3 linked regions of the Homo sapiens genome follow. The protein of the gene in region 2 purifies or fractionates together with the protein of the main gene of each other region. This does not show direct contact. Each region holds a gene or a part of one and is shown on either strand. Other genes may lie near its edges.

What was found.
Region 1: the proteins of SYT6 (region 2) and MADD purify together in Homo sapiens (affinity purification with mass spectrometry; 3 studies listed by BioGRID and IntAct, with this or other methods). This does not show direct contact.
Region 3: the proteins of SYT6 (region 2) and AHCYL2 purify together in Homo sapiens (affinity purification with mass spectrometry; 3 studies listed by BioGRID and IntAct, with this or other methods). This does not show direct contact.

Annotation. Positions count from the first base shown.
Region 1 is NC_000011.10:47,286,994-47,290,744, forward strand, and holds part of MADD (MAP kinase-activating death domain protein), read left to right. Parts: intron 1-1,974; coding exon 1,975-2,034; intron 2,035-2,397; coding exon 2,398-2,500; intron 2,501-2,795; coding exon of another isoform or gene 2,796-2,873; coding exon 2,874-3,060; intron 3,061-3,155; coding exon 3,156-3,306; intron 3,307-3,616; coding exon 3,617-3,751. UniProt on the Homo sapiens protein: Guanyl-nucleotide exchange factor that regulates small GTPases of the Rab family. Converts GDP-bound inactive form of RAB27A and RAB27B to the GTP-bound active forms.
Region 2 is NC_000001.11:114,147,261-114,151,011, reverse strand, and holds part of SYT6 (synaptotagmin-6), read left to right. Parts: intron 1-3,751.
Region 3 is NC_000007.14:129,388,890-129,392,640, forward strand, and holds part of AHCYL2 (adenosylhomocysteinase 3), read left to right. Parts: exon of another isoform or gene 1-51; intron 52-166; coding exon 167-310; intron 311-744; coding exon 745-845; intron 846-3,751. UniProt on the Homo sapiens protein: May regulate the electrogenic sodium/bicarbonate cotransporter SLC4A4 activity and Mg(2+)-sensitivity. On the contrary of its homolog AHCYL1, does not regulate ITPR1 sensitivity to inositol 1,4,5-trisphosphate.

The sequences.
Region 1 (3,751 bases), on a different chromosome or scaffold from region 2:
CGCCAGGTAGTATTGGTTAGTTTCTAGGGGCAGTTAAAACCTTATGTGAAAGCCAGGCGCGGTGGCTCACGCCTGTAATCCCAGCACTTTGGGAGGCCGAGGCGGGTGGATCACGAGGTCAGGAGTTCGAGACCAGACTGACCAACATGGCGAAACGCCGTCTCTGCTAAAAATACAAAAGTTAGCCATCTGGTGTCACGCACCTGTAATCCCAGCTACTTGGGAGGCTGAGGCAGGAGAATCGCTTGAATCCAGGAGGCGGAGGTTGCAGTGAGCCGAGGTCGCGCCACTGCACTCCAGCCTGGGTGACAGAGCAAGACTCCGTCTTAAAAAAACAAAAAACAAAAAACGAAACCTTATTTGAATTGGTTTGTGCTATCTGACAGTTTCAGGGGCTTTTCTGAATTTGATTTTTTATTTTTTTTATTTTCTGAGACAGTGTCACTCCGTCACCCAGGCTGGATGGAGTGCAAGGTGGTGATCTTGGCTCACTGTAACTGCCGCCATCCAGGCTCAAGTGATTCACATGCTTCAGCCTCCCGTGTAGTTGGAATTATAGGCACATACCACCTCGCCTGGCTAATTGTTGTATTTTTAGTAGAGACGGGGTTTCACCATGTTGGCCAGGCTGGTCTTGAACTCCTGACCTTGAGTGATCTGCCCACCTTGGCCTCCCAAAGTGCCAGGATTACAGGTGTGAGCCACTGCACCTGGCCTGATTTTTTTGTTTTCTCTGGATGGTATGACGAAATATTTAACTGTGGTAGGAAGTGCAGTGAGAAACATGTATTTTTTTTTTTTTTTTTTTTTTTTTGAGACAAGAGTCTCGCTCTGTTGCCCAGGCTGGAGTGCAGTGGTGCAATCTTGCCTCACTGCAAGCTCCGCCTCCCGGGTTCACACCATTCTGCCTCAGCCTCCTGAGCAGCCGGGACTATAGGAGCCTGCCACCACGCCTGCCTAATTTTTTGTATTTTTAGTAGAGACAAGGTTTCACCGTGTTAGCCAGGATGGTCTCGATCTCCTGACCTTGTGATCTACCCGCCTTGGCCTCCCAAAGGGTTGGGATTACAGGCGTGAGCCACCGCACCTGGCCAACCTCATGTATTCTTTAACTGACCTCTCATTCCTAGTGGTAAAAAATGTCAGGTTACTTGGGTGCAGTAGCTCACACCTGTCATCCTAGCTACTTGTTAGGCAGAGGCAGGAGGTTCATTTGAGCCCAGGAGTTTGAGGTACAGTGAGCTATAATTAGGCCAGTGCACTCCAGCCTGGACGACAGAGTGAAACCCTGTCTCTAAAAGAAGCCAACAGAAACAAACAAAGTTGTCAGGAGTCTAAGACATGTTCTTAGGTGAGGATGGGAACATTGGATAAATGGGCAAAAGGACATCAGAGCTGGCAGTGAAAGGAGCGAACTAGCACTGCCAGGGAATCCACATGTGGCCGGGTAGGCTAAGGATGGAAGGGTGTCAGTGTCACTGGCCTTCATTTGGTACATTTGAAGAGAAGAGCGATTGAAACTCTTTCATTGCATGCTGATGCTTTGTCGCATTTGCTGCACTTACCCTCTCACCCATCTCCCATCCTCATACCCTGACCCCACTCCCCACAACAGCATCTGCAAGATGGGTTGCTTCCCTGCACATACCCTCAGGCCCCTGGCCCTCTGTGCTGGATGTTTTCTGAAAACCAGCGGTCCCTGTTTCATGCATGTGTGTGTTCAGTACCTGAAGGCTCCCTGTGTCATTTACCCGCCCCTGGCTTGAGAGGCCAGTTTTAAGGGTGGTCTTTTCTTAGAGCCTTGGTTGTCTCCTGGTCACTTGGCTTCCAGCTCTGAGGTGCCCAAGAACCAAGGTTATGTGCATTCCTCAAGCTTTGGGAGAATGCTCAGATTATCTGGCTTACTGCTCCTCGGAGGGGTAGAGGGGTTGCGGTATTGTGGTACACCTACTAATTGTGTATTTTGTGTCCCAGTATTTGGGCTAAATACTCTAATGGAGATTGTTACTGAAGCCGGCCCCGGGAGTGGTGAAGGTGGGTCTTGCCTGTGAGCTGTGCATGATCTTTTTTTTTTCTCTAGCATCTTCTGTGCCTGCCCGAGGGCCATCCTTCTCATGGAGCAAGCAGCGTCACATGAGTGACCTGCTTGCCCCGTCCCCCGTGACGCCCATGCTTGCCCATGGGGCTTGCTGCTGGTGCATGTGGAGTGGCCTGAGTCTCCATCCCCACCTCCTCCACATTGCCATGGCTGGTTTCTACCTACGTATGATGCCTTGGTGCTACCCTCACCCAGCCCTTCTGAGGAACGGGCATGGAACATGGCTACTTAGGGCTGTGCTGGCATGAGCTCCTGTACTACAATAGTGATGTCTCTCATTCCTGCCTTCCCTGCCACAGGAAACAGGAGGGCGTTAGTGGATCAGAAGTCATCTGTCATTAAACACAGCCCAACAGTGAAAAGAGAACCTCCATCACCCCAGGGTCGATCCAGCAATTCTAGGTAATAAATGGTAGAGCTGTTTTAAAAGTTCTCAGGCAGAGGTGGGGTGGTTCCTCTACAGAACTTTAGGGATGCTCAAGAGTGGGAGAGAAGCTCTCAATGGGGTAGATGTAATCAATTTCTTGCCAGCACTTCTCATTCTGGCTTGATCTCCATGCAACTGAAAGCTTACAGTGTTGAGGGGGGTTAATCAGCAGCGGTGGGTATTTGGACAAATCGCGTGCTCCAGAGAGGTGGGGATGTGGTGCACTTGGACATTCAGAGACATGGCTTTGTGTTTTACCCCTGGAGGCAGACATCTAGTCTGGGTGAAAGGTGGGGGGTGCTCTGCAAAGGAGCTGATGACCACAGAAGCGGTGTGTGGACCCTGTAGTGAGAACCAGCAGTTCCTGAAGGAGGTGGTGCACAGCGTGCTGGACGGCCAGGGAGTTGGCTGGCTCAACATGAAAAAGGTGCGCCGGCTGCTGGAGAGCGAGCAGCTGCGAGTCTTTGTCCTGAGCAAGCTGAACCGCATGGTGCAGTCAGAGGACGATGCCCGGCAGGACATCATCCCGGATGTGGTCAGTGTTGGGGGTAGGGAATCGGAGTAACTGGAGAGAGGGATGTGAACACCACAGGCAATTTGCCAACGCTAGCCCCTGGGTTATTGTTGCAGGAGATCAGTCGGAAGGTGTACAAGGGAATGTTAGACCTCCTCAAGTGTACAGTCCTCAGCTTGGAGCAGTCCTATGCCCACGCGGGTCTGGGTGGCATGGCCAGCATCTTTGGGCTTTTGGAGATTGCCCAGACCCACTACTATAGTAAAGGTAGGGATCGTACTTGCTGGGCACCACGCCATCCCTAACTCTGCCACTTGTCTCCTGAAGAGAAAATATATGTGTACCCAGGACACGTTTCCCAGTGCCACGCTGCTTCCCATTAGGCTTTGGGATTTTATTTTCTAATGCATGTTTATACGCAGTGGGTATTCTTTGTTACGAAAAATAAGACATCAGCTCATCTTTCCTTGAACTTCTTCCATTCCGCACCCTCCTGTATCCTGGCTCCTCCCACCTCATATCTGCGCCTTGATTCCTACTCACTACTTCTCTTGACCTCTTGATATTTTTCCCTCAGAACCAGACAAGCGGAAGAGAAGTCCAACAGAAAGTGTAAATACCCCAGTTGGCAAGGATCCTGGCCTAGCTGGGCGGGGGGACCCAAAGGCTATGGCACAACTGAGAGTTCCACAACTGGGACCTCGGGCACCAA
Region 2 (3,751 bases):
TACCATTTTATGTTTTCCCTTGACTTCTTCCTGTTCTAAGTCTCTAGCTTACAGATTTCTAGTAACACCCTGAGACTGAGATTCAGACTCCACTGTCATTTGCTGAGACTCCTCTATAGGCTAGAGTCTGTGCTAGGAATTGCACAGGAAGTCTCAGTTAATCAGACCCTGACTTGGAAACACCTGTACACAAACTGTCCAAACTAAAAGCAAGTTTCCCCTTTTTCTTTAAAAACTCTGAAGCCATAGGCCTGCTATTCTCCTTAATACACCCCAAGTGAACACTAATAAGCAGTTCTCCACCTTTCATTGTGTCATTTGCCTTGTAGAAATGAATGAACTTTTTCCATAAGCCAAGCTGCAGAGGTTTAGGTATGGTCAGCATGGGTTCTGGACTTAAGGTAGCAAGCAGAGGTCCAGAAGTGCTCCAGCAAATGCAGAAACCTGACAGGAGACCTCAAGCTTCCCTGTTTTTCTTAGGCTGGCAGCCGGGAGTGGTTAACTCCAGTTTACTTGTGGCCATGAAATTTATGTGATGTTTGTCCTTCTCACTGGAAGGATGGAATTCTGCAGATTTTGCCCTTTTTGAGGAAAGGTACAATGCACAATCCTTTAGAACCCAAGGAGATGATATTCTGACTAGTGTGTTTTGAGCTTTAGAGTTCTAGAAGCAGGGTCCAGTATCTAAGAGTTGTAGAGCCCTTAGATTTATAGTTCTAGAAGTTTTCTTCTCCCTCTGACTTTGATGAGAACGTCAAGTAGGGATGGTGGTTTCAGTATGTGTCATCCCTCTAAGCTCTGTACAAAAGACATGTTCTCTTCTAACTGTCTGAAGTTTATCTTCCCTGTCCACAGAGTTAGGGGTATAACATGTGGCTGCAAATAGTGAGGAGTGGCATTGAGGCATCTGGATCAAACCAGGTTTCTTTATGGTCTGTATAGGGTTGTCTGGAGTGGGGAAAGCATGCTAAGACAAAGTTCCGACTAAACTGGGTGGCACCCTTTCTATTCTTGCTTAGGAAAAGAAGCCTCTAAGGACTGAGTCACACTTAGGAACTGAAATCAGAGGAGTCTCTGAAAGTAGAAATAAACAGGGGCATCCAGATCTGGACCCTCCAAGTATAATGACACAACCTCATCCCTCCCTTCTTTCTTCTAGGAGCACTGAACTCTTTCTTGCTCCCCGAGGACCCAGGCAGACCCCTCCTCTCACTAGTTGCAGGTACAAACAGGGAGAGAAGCATAGAGGGAAAAGAATTTCTGGCTGTCTGCCCTCCACCTCCATCACTCCAGCCTTGATCCCACATTCAGAAGGGCCACATGCCCTGACCCCTCAAGCAGAAAGGTACAGTTACCATCCACCAAACTAATAATATTAATAATTGTTAAATTAGTGCCAATGTTCTGTTAGCTGTAACACTCCACATTAGTCTCCGATTTAGCTCTGAATCCCCTAATGATGGTGGAAGTGAGCGCCCAGTCATAAAGCTTGGTGCGGCCGTAATTAGCTTGGCATTGTCTCTCCTCATCACAGCTTTTTCAGGAGCATTAATTCCTTCTCTGTTTGGACTCTGCTAATTATCCCCATTGGTAGCTCAGTCTGGATCTCTGAAAGAAGCAAAGGAAGCAAAAGCCCTCTGCTCCCCTCCCCCCAGCCCTGAATTTTAATTACACCGGTTCTCCTAATAAACTTACAAGCCCTGGCAGAGCTTATTATTAATTATTAATGGGCCACGTCTGAGCCTCAGTACAGAATAGCTCTGTTCTCCCAACACACACACACACACACACACAATCTCTCTCTCTCTCTCTCTCTCAGATATTCCTCAGGTACACCTTTTCCAGAGGCCACTGGTTACTTGCCTGGTGGCTGGTGGGCAACCTGAAGTGTCAGCTTTCCAGGGAAGAAGATGGGGCAGGTGGTCACCAGGCTGGTCATAATCTGAGTCTCTGGGGCTCTGTCCAGGTTCATAGGGTCAGGCCAAAAAGTGGGAGTATCCCTCCCATCCTCTCCTGAGTACAACTAAGAAATGCCTGCCCCCACTCCAACTTCTCTGTCCAGCCTGGGACTCCACAGCTCAATCTGTAGTCCTCCCAGATACGTGATTCAAGAGCCCAGATTTGGGCATCAGCAAGTCCTAGGTTCAAATCCCAGCTCTTCTCCTTAATGCACTGTACCCTTGAACAAGTTACCTGGTTAACATCTCTATGCTTAGTTTCTTTATCTTTAAGGGTGTATACCAATTTCTTAGGGAGGCTAGAAAGGTTAAATTAGATAATGTAAAGGGCATAATGCTCACTATGTATTAATAAATAAATAAATAAATAAATAAATAAATAAATGATATTATTAGTATTTTATGAGTGGTTCTGCCCAGAATCTCTTCTCTTCCCAGGCTAAACGCTCTTCTTCCAAGCTCCTGGGCCTCTGCGTCACTTGCTCCCTGGCCTCTGGGCTGTGCTTTGTCTATGTCTCTGTCTGTGTCTGCACGAGAGCTCCTTGGCCGAGGCAGCTCCTGCTCTCCCCAGCCTGAGCACTGACCGTTTCTGAGGGTCCACCACCAATTCCAGGCCCTGAAGCCAGCCTTCTCTGGCTTTGGGGTGAGTAGGGAAAATGGTTCTTTCTTTTTGCTTCCTCTTCCCAGTTTATCTCTTCAATTACAATCTGTTAGCAAGAACGCCTGTTACTGTTACAAAATGGATTTTTCTGATGTGGGAGCCCATTAGAAAAATGGGAACAATAGCAAGCAATAAGAATTGCTGATGAATTCTAACACTATGGGTGGAGAAGAGGGGAGGGGGCACTAGGGCTGTCTTTGGAGAAAGAAGTGTCAGTGGGGGAAGATAAGAAAGCCCTGAGCTGCTATTTAATAACCCAGCATTTTCTGGAAGAGGAGGGAGACCATGGGCCATCACCCCAACCAGACAGTCTCATTTAAGGTGACAAGCAGATCCTATCCTGATGGCCTTGAAGGGGATCTCAACTTCCCAGGAGAGAAGAGGGGCCTGACGTCCCTCAGATTCTTTGTCCTCTGATCTGGAGTCTCCCTTCCCTGCCTCAAAGACTTAGCTTAGCTTTGTGTCTGTTCTGTATACACAGTCAACTGTTATCCTCCACCAAAAAACAAAACATGAAGAATAACAGCAGCTTACATTTTGGGGACATTCACTGTGTACCAGGGCCTGTGCTCAAAGTCTTAGCTTATTTAATATTCACAATGATTCTGCAAAGTAGGAATAATTCGAATCCTGACTAAATAAAAGAGAAAACTAAGATTTGGACAGGTTAAATAACTTGCTCAAGGTCACGCAATTAGAAAGCAATGAAGATGATACATGCTGTGCTGTCGGTCATTCTGGCACTGCCGCCCACCTGAGATGTCCATCCTGTGTCTGAGCACCTGTGAGTTCAGTTTCACAGCCAGGGCTAGAAGCCATGTGCCCCTGTACAAGGCTATGTCACTGGGGTGTGATCCCAAAGCCTAGTTCCATAGCTGTTTTCTCTCCCATGAGACTGCTGGAGAGTTGGCTACTATGGTTTACCAAATCAGGTGCCCATGAAATACTAGAGCTCCTCTGATGCCTGAATGAAAACATTTTACAATGAATATTGAGCAATAGGCTTCTTTTCCCCAAATTTCAAGAAATTTTTCAAGAACATAGGATGTTCTCAATTATAGGTTTTTCTTCCATGATCTTCTTCTTACTTCTTTGGAATTCATTCCTGTTCACCAGCTGGCTGGTGATGGTA
Region 3 (3,751 bases), on a different chromosome or scaffold from region 2:
TTTCAGCTTCCCTCTTCTGGCATGTGTATAGCCTGCAGGTACTTAACAGAGGTAAAAAAATTTATATGGTGCTAGGTGGCTAGAGAAGCTTCAGTTTGCTCCATGGTTTGGAATTTTAGAGGAAGCATTTTTTTTTTTCCGAGTGTTTTTTATTCTGTCATTCCAGCGGCTTCATATACAGATAGCTCTGATGATGAGACATCGCCCAGGGACAAGCAGCAAAAGAACTCTAAGGGAAGCAGTGACTTCTGTGTTAAGAACATCAAACAGGCAGAGTTTGGACGAAGAGAAATTGAAATTGCTGAACAAGGTAAAGAAAACAAGCACCTTTTCCTTCTTAACCTACCTGTGTCTTTTTGTCCATATTAATCCCTTTTTATGTCTGGGGTCTGGTAGCTTGTGAAATTTCTATGTGATAAGAATACTTATAACAAAAGAAATGTGAGTTCAAGAAACACTGGGGAAATCTGGCAAGTCTAGAAGGAACCCTGTATTAAAAAAAAAAAAAAAAAAGGGAGAGAGACTGGATAAGGACTGGAATATAGAGAATCAGAACCCTGGAGCATTTGCCTCCAAAAGCCCTTTATAAAGGAAAATACAGGTTTAATGTCTTGATCCCTGGAGAAACCTAATCTAACCTGATCAGGGGAAGGATCTTAACTTAAGAAAACAAGTTTTTCTGTTTGTTCTTTTATCTCTTATTCCTTCTTCTTTAATATTGCTGTATTTATTGGGCCTTTTCAGAAATGCCTGCATTGATGGCTTTGAGGAAGAGAGCTCAAGGAGAAAAGCCTTTGGCTGGAGCCAAAATCGTGGGTTGCACACACATCACTGCTCAGACTGCTGTGAGTTCTTTTCTTTTCTCCTTTTAATTACAATAGTTAATAATAGCCACGAGCTACTGAAAGCTTACAACATGCCAAGCACCGAGTTAAGAGCTTAACAAGTATTAGCTTATTAATCCTTATAATGGCCATATAAAGCAGGTATTCTTGTTTCCATTTTATAAACGAAGAAGCTGAGGCTCAGAGGGCTTAAGATATTTGTTTAAGGTTATACAGCTAGAAATCACAGAGTCAAGATTTTAACTTCAATATACAGTAGTCCCCCTGCCTTGTCTGTGGGGGATAAGTTTCAAGACCCCTAGTGGACACCTGAAACTTCAGACAGTACTGAACCCTATATATACTATGTTTTTTCCTATACATATATACCTATAATCAAGTTTAATTTATGCAATTGGCCCTGCATGTCCACCAGTTCTGCTTCCTGAGGATTTGACCAACTGCAGATCAAAAATATTCAGAAAATAAAATAATACAACAATACAAAATAACAAGAAATATAACAACTATTTACATAGCATTTACACTGTATTGGGTACTATAAATAACCTAGAGATGCTTTAAAATATACAGAAGGATGTGCACAGATTATATGCAAACACTGCATCATTTTATATAAGGGACATGAGCATCCTCAGATTTTGGTATCCATGGGAGTGCTGGAATAAATCCCCTGAGGATACTGAGAGACAGCTATAAATTCAGCACAGTAAGAAATGAACAACAGTAACTCAAAATAAAAGAGAGCAATTACAACAACAGACTGTAATAAAAGTTATGTCACATAAAGGAATTTATCACAGTACATAGCAGAAAGTCCAAAGGGAAGGCAGACTTCAGATGCAGGATCTCAGGGCTCCAGCTTCACCTCTCTGATTCTCTTGGAGCTGCCTCCTCAGTATGCTTACTTCACCCTAAAGCTGATAGCAAGATGCTTACAACTATTCTAGTCATCACAAACTGACATGAAAAGGAAGAGGGACCATTTCTTCCTCACTCAAGAGAAGTCCCTCCAGGATACTCCATCGTGTCTCATTGGGCAGAACTGGATCATGTATCTGTGCTCCACCAGTCCTACCGAGGGGCGTGGAATTACCATGATTTGCTTACACCAGTGATTCCTACCTTACTCTCATCAGTTTTAATGTCCCCTTTTTATTAAAAAACTTTTTTTTTGCAGTGTCCCTGAACTATCCTGAAATGAAATTCAGATATAACATGTCCAGGTACATATAATCTTTAAAAATAAATCAATATAAAATCTTAACTGAAATATGAAGGAGGAATAAAAAAAGTACAATACTTAAAATAATGTGTATTTCAATATGTAAATACTTGAGGACAACTATAGTAGAACAATCAGATATTTGTACTATTTCACAGTATTATTTGAAATAGTATTATTTGAAGACAGAAATAAATGTGTTATTGATTCCAGAGCATCAGAGCAGCATTGCCATGATTTTCTGAAATAGTAAACAACTTTTTGTAATCTTCTAAACAATAAGAACAACAAAAAGTATGAGTTTTCTCTTCATTTACATAGCTGTTACATTCCTGGAAAAACTATTGTTTTGTATTAAAACTACAAAACTACTTTTTGCTAATTTGTAAAGTGGAATTAGGTTCTAAACTCAGATAATTGTAGATAGGTTTTTCACCCATGGGAACTTTTATTGGGACATTTGAAAATTGTACCAGCTGCAACACAGTTTTTTGTTGAGACACTTTCAAAATGTCCAGATTCCTGGTCCTGCCCACTAAATGCCAATAGCACTCCCCTTCCAATTATTGTGGCAACCAAAAATGCCCCCACAATTTTCTAGATCTCCTCTTTTATCACCAGAGATGCAATATATATGGAGTTGCTAACCATAATGAGACCACTATCGGGAAATTGTTATATTGAGCAGTGGTCTGGAATCTTTTATGGGGATTCATAAGATCTGGGTCATCTGTGTGGCTAGATCAGCTTTCCAAAGATTGTCTCTCCCAAAGCACAACACTTATGTGGTCACATTCCTGATTAAGAACATTAGAGATTCCTCAAGGTACAGACAGCTTCTATTAGCATCTTCACTATGAAACTTTTCTGGGTTATGTGTTCTCTGAGGACAAGAGTACCCTGACTGCTCAAAATTAATATAATAAATTGAAAAGCTATCTGTTTTGGAGCTACAAACTAATGAATCAAGACAGAAACACTCTTGAATCTTTTTTGGCCTGCTCAGTCAGCGACATGAGACTTCAGTGTGGTAGCTTAAAATAGTAAGTGCTTCTCTACTGTCTCATGTTGCTGAATTACATCTAGTTTGTTTTTTACCCTTAGGCTCAGTGAGCATTACCACCTTTCATGGTTCCCTTTCTATTTTTTTCCTGAATGGATTGATCACAATTAGCTTACCAATTTTAATATTAATTTATTGTTTCCACCCCACATTTTTTTCCTTTAAAAAAATAACGACAAAGAAATTATGCTTTGTTTGCCAACCTAATACTCTTTCACTCTTGTCTTAGTTCATTTGGGCTGCTATAACAAAATACCTTAGACTGGGTAATTAATAAACAATAGATATTTATTGTTCACAGTTCTGGAGGCTAGGAAGTCCAAGATCAAGGCGCCAGCAGATTCAGTATCTGGTGAGGGCCTGTTCCTTATAGATGGCGCTTTCTATGTGCCCTCACATGGCCAAAGGGGCAAGCAAGCTTCCTCAGGCTTGTTTTATAAGTACACTAATCCCATTTGTGAGGGCAGAAATCTCATGTCTAATCACCTTCCAATCACTTCCATAATCACCTTTTAATACCATCGCCTAGGGGGTTAGTTTTTAACATATGACTCTGGGGGAGGAGAACATACATTCAGACCATAGCAATCCCCAAATACTTTAGTGTGTATTTTCTAC